2 linked regions of the Homo sapiens genome follow. The protein of the gene in region 1 interacts with the protein of each later gene in a biochemical or structural test. Each region holds a gene or a part of one and is shown on either strand. Other genes may lie near its edges.

Evidence for each region. The genes of interacting proteins can lie anywhere in the genome.
Region 2: the proteins of MAP1B (region 1) and HTR6 form a complex in vitro, tested with the Homo sapiens proteins (one study listed by BioGRID).

Annotation. Positions count from the first base shown.
Region 1 is NC_000005.10:72,194,467-72,201,497, forward strand, and holds part of MAP1B (microtubule-associated protein 1B), read left to right. Parts: coding exon 1-5,901; intron 5,902-7,031. UniProt on the Homo sapiens protein: Facilitates tyrosination of alpha-tubulin in neuronal microtubules. Phosphorylated MAP1B is required for proper microtubule dynamics and plays a role in the cytoskeletal changes that accompany neuronal differentiation and neurite extension.
Region 2 is NC_000001.11:19,674,875-19,681,497, forward strand, and holds the end of HTR6 (5-hydroxytryptamine receptor 6), read left to right. Parts: intron 1-3,692; coding exon 3,693-3,851; intron 3,852-4,044; coding exon 4,045-4,494; 3' UTR 4,495-6,092; downstream 6,093-6,623. UniProt on the Homo sapiens protein: G-protein coupled receptor for 5-hydroxytryptamine (serotonin), a biogenic hormone that functions as a neurotransmitter, a hormone and a mitogen. Also has a high affinity for tricyclic psychotropic drugs.

The sequences.
Region 1 (7,031 bases):
ACATCAAGATGAAGAGAAGCATAGAAGAAGCCTGCTTCACTCTCCAGTACCTAAACAAATTGTCCATGAAACCAGAACCTCTGTTTAGAAGTGTAGGCAATACTATTGATCCTGTCATTCTTTTCCAAAAAATGGGAGTAGGTAAACTTGAGATGTATGTGCTTAATCCAGTCAAGAGCAGCAAGGAAATGCAGTATTTTATGCAGCAGTGGACTGGTACCAACAAAGACAAGGCTGAATTCATTCTGCCTAATGGTCAAGAAGTAGATCTCCCGATTTCCTACTTAACTTCAGTCTCATCTTTGATTGTGTGGCATCCAGCAAACCCTGCGGAGAAAATCATCCGAGTCCTGTTTCCTGGGAACAGCACCCAGTACAACATCCTGGAAGGGTTGGAAAAGCTCAAACATCTAGACTTTCTGAAGCAGCCACTGGCCACCCAAAAGGATCTCACTGGCCAGGTGCCCACTCCTGTGGTGAAACAAACAAAACTGAAACAGAGGGCTGATAGCCGAGAAAGTCTGAAGCCAGCCGCAAAACCACTTCCTAGCAAATCCGTGCGCAAGGAGTCAAAAGAAGAAACCCCTGAGGTCACAAAAGTGAATCACGTGGAAAAGCCACCCAAAGTTGAAAGCAAAGAAAAGGTAATGGTGAAAAAAGACAAGCCAATAAAAACAGAGACCAAACCTTCAGTGACTGAAAAGGAGGTTCCCAGCAAAGAAGAGCCATCTCCAGTGAAAGCCGAGGTGGCTGAGAAGCAAGCCACAGATGTCAAACCCAAAGCTGCCAAGGAGAAGACGGTGAAAAAGGAAACAAAGGTAAAGCCTGAAGACAAGAAAGAGGAGAAAGAAAAGCCAAAGAAAGAAGTGGCTAAAAAGGAGGACAAAACACCTATCAAGAAGGAGGAAAAACCAAAAAAGGAAGAGGTGAAAAAAGAAGTCAAAAAAGAGATCAAGAAAGAAGAGAAAAAAGAACCCAAGAAAGAGGTTAAGAAAGAAACACCGCCAAAGGAAGTCAAGAAGGAAGTTAAGAAGGAAGAGAAGAAGGAAGTGAAAAAGGAAGAAAAGGAACCCAAAAAAGAAATTAAGAAGCTCCCTAAAGACGCAAAGAAATCATCTACTCCTCTGTCTGAAGCAAAAAAACCAGCTGCTTTAAAACCAAAAGTACCCAAGAAGGAAGAGTCTGTCAAGAAAGATTCTGTTGCTGCCGGAAAGCCAAAGGAGAAGGGGAAAATAAAAGTCATTAAGAAGGAAGGCAAGGCCGCAGAGGCTGTCGCTGCAGCTGTCGGCACTGGAGCCACCACAGCAGCTGTCATGGCGGCAGCTGGAATAGCAGCCATTGGCCCTGCCAAAGAACTCGAAGCTGAGAGGTCCCTTATGTCATCTCCTGAGGATCTAACCAAGGACTTTGAAGAGTTAAAGGCTGAAGAGGTCGATGTAACAAAGGACATCAAGCCTCAGCTGGAGCTAATCGAAGACGAAGAGAAACTGAAGGAAACTGAGCCAGTCGAAGCCTACGTCATCCAGAAGGAGAGAGAAGTCACCAAAGGTCCTGCCGAGTCCCCTGATGAGGGAATCACTACCACTGAAGGGGAGGGCGAATGTGAACAGACACCTGAGGAGCTGGAGCCCGTCGAGAAGCAGGGAGTAGACGACATTGAAAAATTTGAAGATGAAGGAGCCGGTTTTGAAGAATCTTCAGAGACTGGAGACTATGAAGAGAAGGCAGAAACTGAGGAGGCTGAGGAGCCAGAAGAGGATGGGGAGGAACACGTATGTGTGAGCGCCTCCAAGCACAGCCCCACTGAGGATGAGGAAAGTGCCAAGGCGGAGGCTGATGCATACATCAGGGAGAAGAGGGAGTCTGTGGCCAGTGGGGATGACCGAGCCGAAGAAGACATGGATGAGGCCATTGAGAAAGGAGAGGCTGAACAATCTGAAGAGGAGGCTGATGAGGAGGACAAAGCTGAAGATGCCAGAGAGGAGGAATATGAGCCGGAAAAAATGGAAGCTGAAGACTATGTGATGGCTGTGGTCGACAAGGCTGCAGAGGCTGGTGGTGCCGAGGAGCAGTATGGATTCCTCACCACACCAACCAAGCAACTAGGAGCCCAGTCTCCTGGCCGAGAACCTGCATCTTCAATTCATGATGAGACTTTACCTGGAGGCTCAGAGAGCGAGGCCACCGCTTCTGATGAGGAGAATCGAGAAGACCAGCCTGAGGAATTCACTGCCACCTCTGGCTACACTCAGTCTACTATTGAGATATCCAGTGAGCCCACCCCCATGGATGAGATGTCTACCCCTCGAGACGTGATGAGTGATGAGACCAACAATGAAGAGACGGAGTCCCCTTCTCAGGAATTCGTAAATATCACCAAATATGAATCTTCATTGTATTCTCAGGAATACTCTAAACCTGCTGATGTTACACCGCTCAACGGATTTTCTGAAGGATCAAAAACAGATGCCACTGATGGCAAGGATTACAATGCTTCAGCCTCTACCATATCACCACCCTCTTCCATGGAGGAAGACAAATTCAGCAGATCTGCTTTACGTGATGCTTACTGCTCTGAAGTGAAAGCCAGCACCACTTTGGACATCAAAGATAGCATCTCAGCTGTTTCAAGTGAAAAGGTCAGCCCATCGAAGAGCCCGTCCCTGAGTCCATCTCCACCATCACCCTTAGAAAAGACCCCCCTGGGTGAACGTAGTGTGAACTTCTCTCTGACGCCCAATGAGATTAAAGTCTCTGCAGAGGCAGAAGTAGCCCCGGTGTCTCCTGAGGTGACCCAAGAAGTAGTTGAAGAACATTGTGCTAGTCCTGAGGACAAGACTCTGGAAGTGGTGTCACCATCTCAGTCCGTGACTGGCAGTGCTGGTCACACACCTTACTATCAATCTCCTACTGACGAGAAATCCAGTCATCTCCCTACAGAAGTCATTGAAAAACCACCAGCAGTTCCAGTGAGTTTTGAATTCAGTGATGCCAAAGATGAGAATGAAAGGGCTTCAGTAAGCCCCATGGATGAGCCCGTGCCTGACTCAGAGTCTCCTATTGAAAAAGTTTTGTCTCCTTTACGCAGCCCGCCCCTCATTGGATCCGAGTCTGCTTATGAAAGTTTTCTAAGTGCTGATGACAAGGCTTCTGGCAGAGGTGCCGAAAGTCCTTTTGAAGAAAAGAGTGGAAAACAAGGCTCTCCAGACCAAGTAAGTCCAGTTTCTGAAATGACTTCTACTAGTCTTTACCAAGACAAACAGGAAGGGAAAAGCACAGACTTTGCACCAATAAAAGAAGACTTTGGCCAAGAAAAGAAAACTGATGATGTTGAAGCCATGAGTTCTCAACCAGCACTGGCTCTGGATGAAAGGAAATTAGGAGATGTTTCTCCCACACAAATAGATGTCAGTCAGTTTGGATCTTTTAAAGAAGACACTAAGATGTCCATTTCTGAAGGTACTGTCTCAGACAAGTCAGCTACTCCTGTTGATGAGGGCGTAGCAGAAGACACGTACTCTCATATGGAGGGTGTGGCCTCAGTGTCCACAGCCTCAGTGGCTACGAGCTCATTTCCAGAGCCAACAACAGATGATGTGTCTCCATCTCTGCATGCTGAGGTTGGCTCCCCACATTCCACAGAAGTAGATGACTCCCTTTCAGTGTCTGTTGTGCAAACACCTACCACATTCCAGGAAACAGAAATGTCTCCATCTAAAGAAGAATGCCCAAGACCGATGTCAATTTCTCCACCAGATTTCTCCCCTAAAACTGCAAAGTCCAGGACACCCGTTCAAGATCACAGATCTGAACAGTCCTCAATGTCTATTGAATTTGGCCAAGAATCTCCTGAGCAATCCCTTGCTATGGACTTCAGTCGACAGTCTCCAGATCACCCTACAGTGGGTGCAGGCGTGCTTCACATCACTGAAAATGGGCCAACTGAAGTGGACTACAGTCCTTCTGACATGCAGGACTCCAGTTTATCACATAAGATACCACCTATGGAGGAGCCGTCCTACACCCAAGATAATGATCTTTCTGAGCTCATCTCAGTATCTCAGGTAGAGGCCTCCCCGTCCACCTCTTCTGCTCATACCCCTTCTCAGATCGCTTCTCCTCTCCAAGAAGATACTCTATCCGATGTTGCTCCTCCCAGAGATATGTCCTTATATGCCTCACTCACCTCTGAAAAAGTGCAAAGTCTGGAAGGAGAGAAGCTCTCTCCAAAATCTGATATCTCTCCACTCACCCCACGAGAGTCCTCTCCTTTATATTCACCTACTTTTTCAGATTCTACCTCTGCAGTCAAAGAGAAAACAGCAACTTGCCACAGTTCCTCTTCTCCACCAATAGATGCAGCATCCGCAGAGCCCTATGGCTTCCGTGCCTCAGTGTTATTCGATACAATGCAACACCATCTAGCCTTGAATAGAGATTTGTCCACACCTGGCCTGGAGAAGGACAGTGGAGGGAAGACACCTGGTGACTTTAGCTATGCCTATCAAAAGCCTGAGGAAACAACCAGGTCCCCAGATGAAGAAGATTATGACTATGAGTCTTATGAGAAGACCACCCGGACCTCAGATGTGGGTGGCTATTACTATGAGAAGATAGAGAGAACCACAAAATCTCCAAGTGACAGTGGCTACTCCTATGAGACCATTGGGAAAACTACCAAGACCCCTGAAGATGGTGACTATTCCTATGAAATTATTGAGAAGACCACACGGACCCCTGAAGAGGGTGGGTACTCATATGACATAAGTGAAAAGACCACCAGCCCCCCCGAAGTGAGTGGTTACAGCTATGAAAAGACTGAGAGGTCTAGAAGGCTTCTGGATGACATCAGCAATGGCTATGATGACTCTGAGGATGGTGGCCACACACTTGGGGACCCCAGCTACTCTTATGAAACCACTGAGAAAATTACCAGTTTCCCTGAGTCTGAAGGTTATTCCTATGAGACATCTACAAAGACAACACGAACCCCTGATACTTCCACATACTGTTACGAGACTGCAGAGAAAATCACTAGAACCCCTCAGGCATCCACATATTCCTACGAGACTTCAGACCTATGCTACACTGCAGAAAAGAAGTCCCCCTCAGAAGCCCGTCAGGATGTCGATTTATGCCTCGTGTCCTCTTGTGAATACAAGCACCCCAAGACAGAGCTTTCACCCTCTTTCATTAATCCCAATCCTCTTGAGTGGTTTGCCAGTGAAGAACCCACTGAAGAATCTGAAAAGCCCCTCACTCAATCAGGGGGAGCCCCACCGCCTCCAGGAGGAAAGCAACAGGGCCGACAGTGTGATGAAACCCCTCCCACCTCAGTCAGCGAGTCAGCCCCATCCCAGACCGACTCTGATGTTCCCCCGGAGACTGAAGAGTGCCCCTCCATCACGGCCGATGCCAATATCGACTCTGAAGACGAGTCGGAAACCATCCCCACAGACAAAACTGTCACGTACAAACACATGGACCCACCTCCAGCTCCCGTGCAAGACCGCAGCCCTTCGCCACGCCACCCTGATGTGTCCATGGTGGACCCAGAGGCCTTGGCCATTGAGCAGAACCTGGGCAAAGCTCTAAAGAAAGATCTGAAAGAGAAGACCAAAACCAAAAAGCCAGGTACAAAGACCAAGTCATCTTCACCTGTCAAAAAGAGTGATGGGAAGTCTAAGCCCTTGGCAGCTTCACCAAAACCAGCGGGCTTGAAAGAATCCTCGGATAAAGTGTCCAGGGTGGCTTCTCCTAAGAAGAAAGAATCTGTGGAAAAGGCAGCAAAACCCACCACCACTCCTGAGGTCAAAGCTGCACGTGGGGAAGAGAAAGACAAGGAGACCAAGAATGCTGCCAATGCCTCTGCATCCAAGTCGGCCAAGACCGCCACTGCAGGTAGGTTGAGAAGGCTGGGCATTGGATATATGTCACAACCATTCTACTTGCGTTTACAGCCTTTATATTTCCCTGTTTGGCTTTGTACTGGGAAGATGAGGGAGCACAATTGATGCTTTACCTTCCCTGTACTCTTCTCCTCTGCCCAAAGGTATATATCTCAGTCCAGTGTGGCCTTAAGGCTTGGAAATAGCTCAGTGTATGGTTCAAAGCAGCTGTGATTCATCACTGGGATTCCTGATTTTGTGCCGTTTTCGAACACAGCAACTACAGCCCTGTTCTAAATCTTCAGAACCAAGGATGTGTCTTTCAGGTGCTTCTGGAAGACTGGTTTCAGCCATACTGGCCTCAGAATCCAGCAGGGTAACACAGGCCAGGAGCTCCCAAAGGCCTAAGGAGAACCAGAGGTTTCACATCAAGACTGGATCAACCAGTCTAGACCCAAGATTTAGAGTCCTTTTTTAAAAAAAATTTTTTTTAAATTAAAAATGTTTACATTTTTATTTAAAACATCACCAGGTTGGAGATAAATCCTCATTAAAGGCAGTGTTCCATTTTCTTATCAGCCAAAAAATACTATAATTTCAGTTGACCAGTGAGTGTCCGGTGAAAATTGAGAGAAAAACATTGATGGCTCTGCTCTTACCCTTCTCTTACCCCATGGCCTCATTAGTAGAGACTCAATGCTATTTCAGATTAAAATTCCACTGGGAAGCTAGATGCATGGCCTCATGCCTGTAATTTCAGCACTTTGGGAGGCTGAGATGGAAGGTTAGCTTCAGCCCAGGAAGTTGAGACCAGCCTGTGCAACATAGCAAGACCCTGTCTCCACAAAAAAAAAAAAATGTTTTTTAATTAGCTGGGTGTGGTGGCACGTGCTTATAGTCTTAGCTACTTGGGAGGCTGAGGCAGGAGGATCACTTCAGCCCAAGAGATCAAGGCTGCAGTGAGCCAGAATTGTATGTATCACTGCATGCCAAGCCTGGGTGACAGAGCAAGACCCTGTCTCTCAAAAATAAATAAATAAGCAAATGAAATGCCACTTGGCAAGAGCAGGTATCCCTGATTTTTGATCATTCATGTTTTTGGTCATGATTCTCAGATTTATCAGGTTCTCAGCAATGACCTGG
Region 2 (6,623 bases), on another chromosome or scaffold:
AGGAAGCTGCCCTCTGACACTGATACAGAAGGGAGATGCAAACGACAGGACATGGCCCCAAGGGGCTGCGAGGTGCTTATGGGGGAGAGAGAATCCAGAAGGGTGATGCCAGCATCAGCCAGATGCCGGGGTGTGGACTAGTGACAGCCATTGGCTTCTGCTCCATGAGGGCCTCTTGCTGACAGTGGTGGGGTTTCTGTAACCCCACCTGACTGGGCCCATGGATGCCGTCTCCAAAGGTGGAAGCAGCTTGGTGAAGTGGGCAGAGTGGTGTTCCTGAGGCCAGAAATGATGGAATCCCTAACTCAACTCTTAACTGCTGTGTGACTTCTGGCAAGTCATTTTGCCTCTCCGAGCCTCAGTTGTCTCATCTGCAAAATGGGGATGACAATGCCTACCTCTCATAAAGACTGAATGACCTAATGACTATCAAATGCTGATGTGTAGTAAGTGCTCGAGAAATGGGGATGATAATGCTGATTTGTTCAGGGCCACTCAGGTTTTGGTTGGAGGCCTTGTACTGGAACAGTGTGACCTTGGGAAGGGTAGAGTGTCCTCTACCCTTTCTGAGCCTCAGTTTCCTTCTCTCTTTCCTCTTCCCTGTGTTCTTGAGTCAACTCTCTGGAAAGCAGAGGAGAAAGAAAAACCTGGAGTTGTTCCCAGGGAGACTAGAAAGGGAATCTCAGTTCATCTTCACCCCATTCTCTGGAGCTCCTTCCCCCAATGATTGACCTGAGATATTCCCCCTAGTGCCTCAGTTTCCCCCATGCCCTAGAGCTGTGATAAGATCAGGGCTACCTCCTCTCCCCTGCCCTCCTCAGGTCACTAAGGGTCAGAGCGATGCCTGGATGAGACAGTGTCTCATCCCTCTCCATGCCGTCTATTCCCATTGATGGCAGCAATTTGAAGGTGTGGCAGGTCTTAGGAGATTCTTTTGGGGAAGCAGGAGCCTCTTCCTCCAGGCTGACCATGGTGTGGTCACAAAAGCCATATAGAGTCCACTCTGGAGGAGAGAAAACTAGAAGAGGAGAGAGGAGAGTAAAACCCTCTTTTACTCCCTTGCTAACTTGGAATGACTTTGGAGCAGACTCGTGTATGATGGGGTGGAGTCGGAGGAGAGCATCCTCTAGTCATAGCATCTGAGCCGCAGCGTGGTGACTCAGAGCATTTGTCTTGGTGTCTGTGCTGCTTTGGGGAGGCCAGAGCTGCTGGCAGAAGGACAGGCTCCCCAACAGTGCTCAAAATCACCCCAACCTCACAACACATATCACTGAAACAGCAACATGGCTACCAGGTATTTAGCACCTACTCAACGTCAGACTCTGTGCATGCATTTATTATCCATAGCTTCACAGCGACGCCGTAAGCTGAGTATCATTTCTCCCATTTTGCAGATGTGGAAACAGAGGCTCTCTCAAGATCACAGAGCGAGTAAGTGGTAGAGGCCACTTTGATTTGAAGCCAGATCACCTGTCTTAAAAGCCCAGGTTTTGCCTCTGTACAATGCTGTCTCACCAAGACAGAAGGGAGAAACCAAGGCCTCTGTTGTGAATTTGTATAACCTTGATATTTGTACAACCAGATTTCATGTGAAGAAACACGTTGAGGGGTGGGGATTACGATGTGCTTCGTCTCCCTGCCCCAGCAACCTCCTTGCCATTTCAGAATTAGAATTCCAGCTTCTATGAAAAGACCGCGTGTAGTTGGGGTTTCAGCACCATGGACAAGACACCAACTCTGGAGGCCTAGAAAGAGCCGGGGCTGGAGGAGAGGGCATGCGCAGCAGAGTGGGGTGGGGTGTTGGCTTTGGTGCTCCCTGGAGTTGACACATCTTGGCTTTGCCTCCTCCGCCTTTCCATCTGCGGAAGGTTGCCTGGGAATCTGGCTCTGCTCCTGCCTCCTTCTGACCTCATCTCCCCATATCCAACCCACCTCTGGCCTCGAGAACTAAGCAGGGCTCTCACGCAATTTAGGAACTGGACAAATCCCAGTGCCGGGAAAATCCCTGGCTGTCAAAGCCCAGATGTATTCACAGACCGCAAACACACCCTTTGCGTAGCTCATGATGAATTGTGCACACCACTGCCCACGGGCATTAAATAGTAAATAGAGGTGGGCCTAATTTTGTGTAAATCTAATATATGAAAATCCACGTTGATTACAGAAACACATGGTTTAGAGGAGGGCTTCACATCCCAGCTTTCACGGACTCCTAGGGGTTTCTGGTGGAAACCTAGAGACTTCAAGGTCATCTCTGAACCTTCTGGAAGTGTGAAACGTTGTTTTCTTGTCTGTGTGTGTGTGTGTAAAAATTTACAAGCCTTTTATTTTCTGGGGAGAGGTTTGTGTGTGTGTGTGTGTGTGTGTGAGATTTCATTAGATTTTCAAAAGGCTCATGAAGTTTAACAAGTGAAGAGCACTGCTGAGCTAAAGAATGATCCAGCTCAGAGAGCCCTTTGGGACTGTGGGGGCCAGTTTGCAAAGTCAAATTCTAACCTCCCCGGGCCCATGCCTTCCTTTCAGTGGCTGCTGGGAAGTAGCTTCTTTCTCTTCCTCCCTCCTACCCCTTCCTCCTCTTCCTGTCCACTTTTGAGAATGGAGATGCCTGCCAGTTCGCAGTATAATTGAGCTATAAAATGCCAAGGTAACCAGCATCCTTAGGAGCCTATTAAGAGATTTAGCTGCAAACATTGGCTCTGTGCACACATTCTCAAAAAAGCCTTTCTATTTTGTGGGGCTCAAGAGTAATTGCCCAGGCAAGACTATTGCTCCCAAATGTGAAGACAATCCACATACAAAGCAATTGCCAAGCTCTGGACAGTAACAGGTCCTCTTTTTCAAGTACTGTTCAATTGCAATTGATTTTGTGTGTGTCTGTGTGTGTGACAGAGTCTCGCTCTGTCACCCAGGCTTGGAGTGCAGTGATGTGAGCTTGGCACACTGCAACCTCCACCTCCTGGGTTCAAGCAATTCTCCTGCCTCAGTCTCCTGAGTAGCTGGGATTACAGGTGCCTGCCACCACGCCTGGCTAATTTTTGTATTTTTAGTAGAGGCAAGGTTTCACCCTGTTGGCCAGGCTGGTCTCAAACTCCTGACCTCAAGTGATCTGCCTGCCTCGGCCTCCCAAAGTGCTGGGATTACAGGCGTGAGCCACTGTGCCCAGTCAATTGCAATTGATTTCTGTAGCGCTAAAGGCTTTGGAAGGTGCTGGGCTCATTGTAATGTGTGTGTTGGCCTGTGTCACGTATTGTCTTTGCAGGGATGGTTGTTCTTCTGAACCATCTGATTTGTGTTTCAGGTATTGCTCTGTCTCACTGCACTTCCTAGAGCTCCTTATGAAATTCTGGGTCAGGGTCAGGGCTCAGTGTGGGACCAGGATCAGAGCTCAGTCTAGGTCCACAGTTGAGGCTTGGTTTGAGAACTTGGTTATGTAGGGCTTTATGGTAGGTGTCAGGGTTCAGTGGGGGGCCAAGGTCAGGGCTTGGTTTATTGCTGATGTCAGGGCTTGGCCTGGAGTCAGGGTCAGGGCTCAGTCTAGGACTCTAGTTGGGACTCAGTCAAGGAACAGGGCCCAGTTTAATCCTGGCACTAGGGCTCAGTCTAGAATTAGGATTGAAGCTCAGTCTGTGGCTAGGATCAGGGTCAGACGGGGGCCCTTTCTCAACGGACTCATGTGGCCTTCCTTTCCGCAGGTGCCCAGGACCCCACGCCCAGGGGTGGAGTCTGCTGACAGCAGGCGTCTAGCCACGAAGCACAGCAGGAAGGCCCTGAAGGCCAGCCTGACGCTGGGCATCCTGCTGGGCATGTTCTTTGTGACCTGGTTGCCCTTCTTTGTGGCCAACATAGTCCAGGTAATGCCACGGCAGGGGGCAGGTGAGTCCGGCCCTTGCAGGAGAGGCCCTGGATCCCAGCCCAGGCATGGGGACAGGGGAGGGTAGGCTGCCTCTCGTGGTGCGTGTGTGTGTGTGTCTGCTCCATACATGCTGGGAAGGGTGGCCTGGGTCCCTGCCCTGGGACCAGGCATGATGCATCCCCTCCCCCCAGGCCGTGTGCGACTGCATCTCCCCAGGCCTCTTCGATGTCCTCACATGGCTGGGTTACTGTAACAGCACCATGAACCCCATCATCTACCCACTCTTCATGCGGGACTTCAAGCGGGCGCTGGGCAGGTTCCTGCCATGTCCACGCTGTCCCCGGGAGCGCCAGGCCAGCCTGGCCTCGCCATCACTGCGCACCTCTCACAGCGGCCCCCGGCCCGGCCTTAGCCTACAGCAGGTGCTGCCGCTGCCCCTGCCGCCGGACTCAGATTCGGACTCAGACGCAGGCTCAGGCGGCTCCTCGGGCCTGCGGCTCACGGCCCAGCTGCTGCTTCCTGGCGAGGCCACCCAGGACCCCCCGCTGCCCACCAGGGCCGCTGCCGCCGTCAATTTCTTCAACATCGACCCCGCGGAGCCCGAGCTGCGGCCGCATCCACTTGGCATCCCCACGAACTGACCCGGGCTTGGGGCTGGCCAATGGGGAGCTGGATTGAGCAGAACCCAGACCCTGAGTCCTTGGGCCAGCTCTTGGCTAAGACCAGGAGGCTGCAAGTCTCCTAGAAGCCCTCTGAGCTCCAGAGGGGTGCGCAGAGCTGACCCCCTGCTGCCATCTCCAGGCCCCTTACCTGCAGGGATCATAGCTGACTCAGATATCGTGTTCTGAAGGATGCTCCACTGTTGAGTGTAACTTGTGTGTGCAGAGGATGGGCTGGAGGACTCTGGATGTTGGGGAGAAGGACCTCTTGGTTCAGGTTAGGATGAAAACAATCATGACCTTTGCCCATTCTGTCAGGCTGGACGGGAGGGAATGCCCCCACCTGCAGGCATGGATTAATGCTGGGCTGAACCCCTTGCTACTCACAGTGTAGTCCATGGACAATCGGCATTGCCGTCACCTTTGGGAGTTTGTGAAAAATGCACATCTCTGCCCCTGCCCAGACCTGCTGAGTCAGAACTGCATGTTACCAAGATCCCAGGTGAATCATGTGCCCATTACAGTTTGAGATGTGCTGCCTTAGATCATCTTTAACCCTCAGAATGATTTGCTGGATGGTTTTTGGACCTGTCAGTCTCCCCTCCCTGGTATATATGTGGCAGCAGCTGCACCTGGGAGGCAGGCAGGCATGCATGTGGGCCTCTGCTCTACCACCTATGAGCTCTGGGGCCTGACACGAGTTATTTAACCTCTCCGAGCCTCGGTTATCCCATGTGTAAGGTAGAGAAATGATGCCTATCTTGCAGGTTGTCTTGAGAATTAAGACAATGTGTGCCCAGCACCCAGTACACGGTCAGTTAATTGGTACGTTCTGTTGTTACGACCCCCGGCTATCCAGCCCCCTGGCCTCTCCGGCTGTGTGTCAGGAAGGGCTCTTTGCTCCCGTTGTTCTCTTTCCATTTGCCTCCCCCTCTTCAGCCCTGGCCTAGCCTCCCAAAGCCTGACTCTGGTTCCCCAACTCCCTGTTCTGGCTCCTGGGTGGGGACCCCATCTCTCAGGGACCCTCCCAGCTCCCAAGCTGCTGCCCTGCCTTTCCTGGGGGCAAAAGGGGCAGGTGGCAGTTTCTTTTTCAGCCTCAGAACTGGTTTTCCTCAATCCTGGGGGGTCCTTGGACCTAGAAGGGAACAACTGATGGGGATAAACCCAGCCCCTTGCCCACCTGCCTCTGGCCTTCCCTGGGGTCAGTGAGAGAAATGGGAATGGTAGCTACTTGGGTCAGCAGAGTAGAGTCAAAGAGCTGTTCCTGGTGTGAGGTGGGGCCCACGAGGCAGGCAGGTGGACTCTGGCACAGGGGCCTTGGTTTCTGGGGGCAGGGGGTTGGGGAACTCTTGGTCGCCAGTTTACCTGCCATAGGTCCCTTTTCAGCCCTGCCTCCCCCAAGTTCCATCAACACAAACTCCCAGGGGGTCCTCCATGCCTGGCCTGGCCCTCTCCTTGGTGCTGATGAGACACAACTCTGGCCCCGGCGGCTGGCCTCTGAGGGGCCATGGTGCTTGCGGGGCTTCCCCTATCCCCCAGGTCTGCCCAAGGGGACTCTCAATAAACTCTAGCTGAAGGCAGTGGCTGTGGTGTGGACTGGATTCAACTGAGGGGCCACTCGGGGCTTGAGAAGCAGCTGGTGTCGTGGGGAGGCCTGGGTGTAGGTGTCCTGGGTTCTGGTCCAGATTCTGCCCCTTCAATCTGGGACCCCAGAAAAATCCTTTCCCCTTTCAGAGCCTCCATTTCCCATGTATGACATGAGCAGCTTAGTTTAAAAGCAACAAGAGTTGCATAAATACTTGTTTTTAAATTTTGTGTTTTAAGAGTTGGAGTTGGCTGGGCATGGTGGCTCATGCCTGTAATCCCAGCACTTTGGAAGGCTGAGGTGGGTGGATCATCTGAGGTCAGGAGTTGGAGACCAGTATGGCCAATATGGTGAAACCCCATCTCTACTAAAAATACAAAAAATTAGCTAGGCGTGGTGGCAAGTGCCTTAATCCCAGCTACTCAGGAGGCTGAGGCAGGAGAATCCCTTGAACCTGGCAGGTGGAGGTTGCAGTGAGCTGAGATCATGCCATTGCACTCTAGCCTGGTGACAAGACAAGACTCCG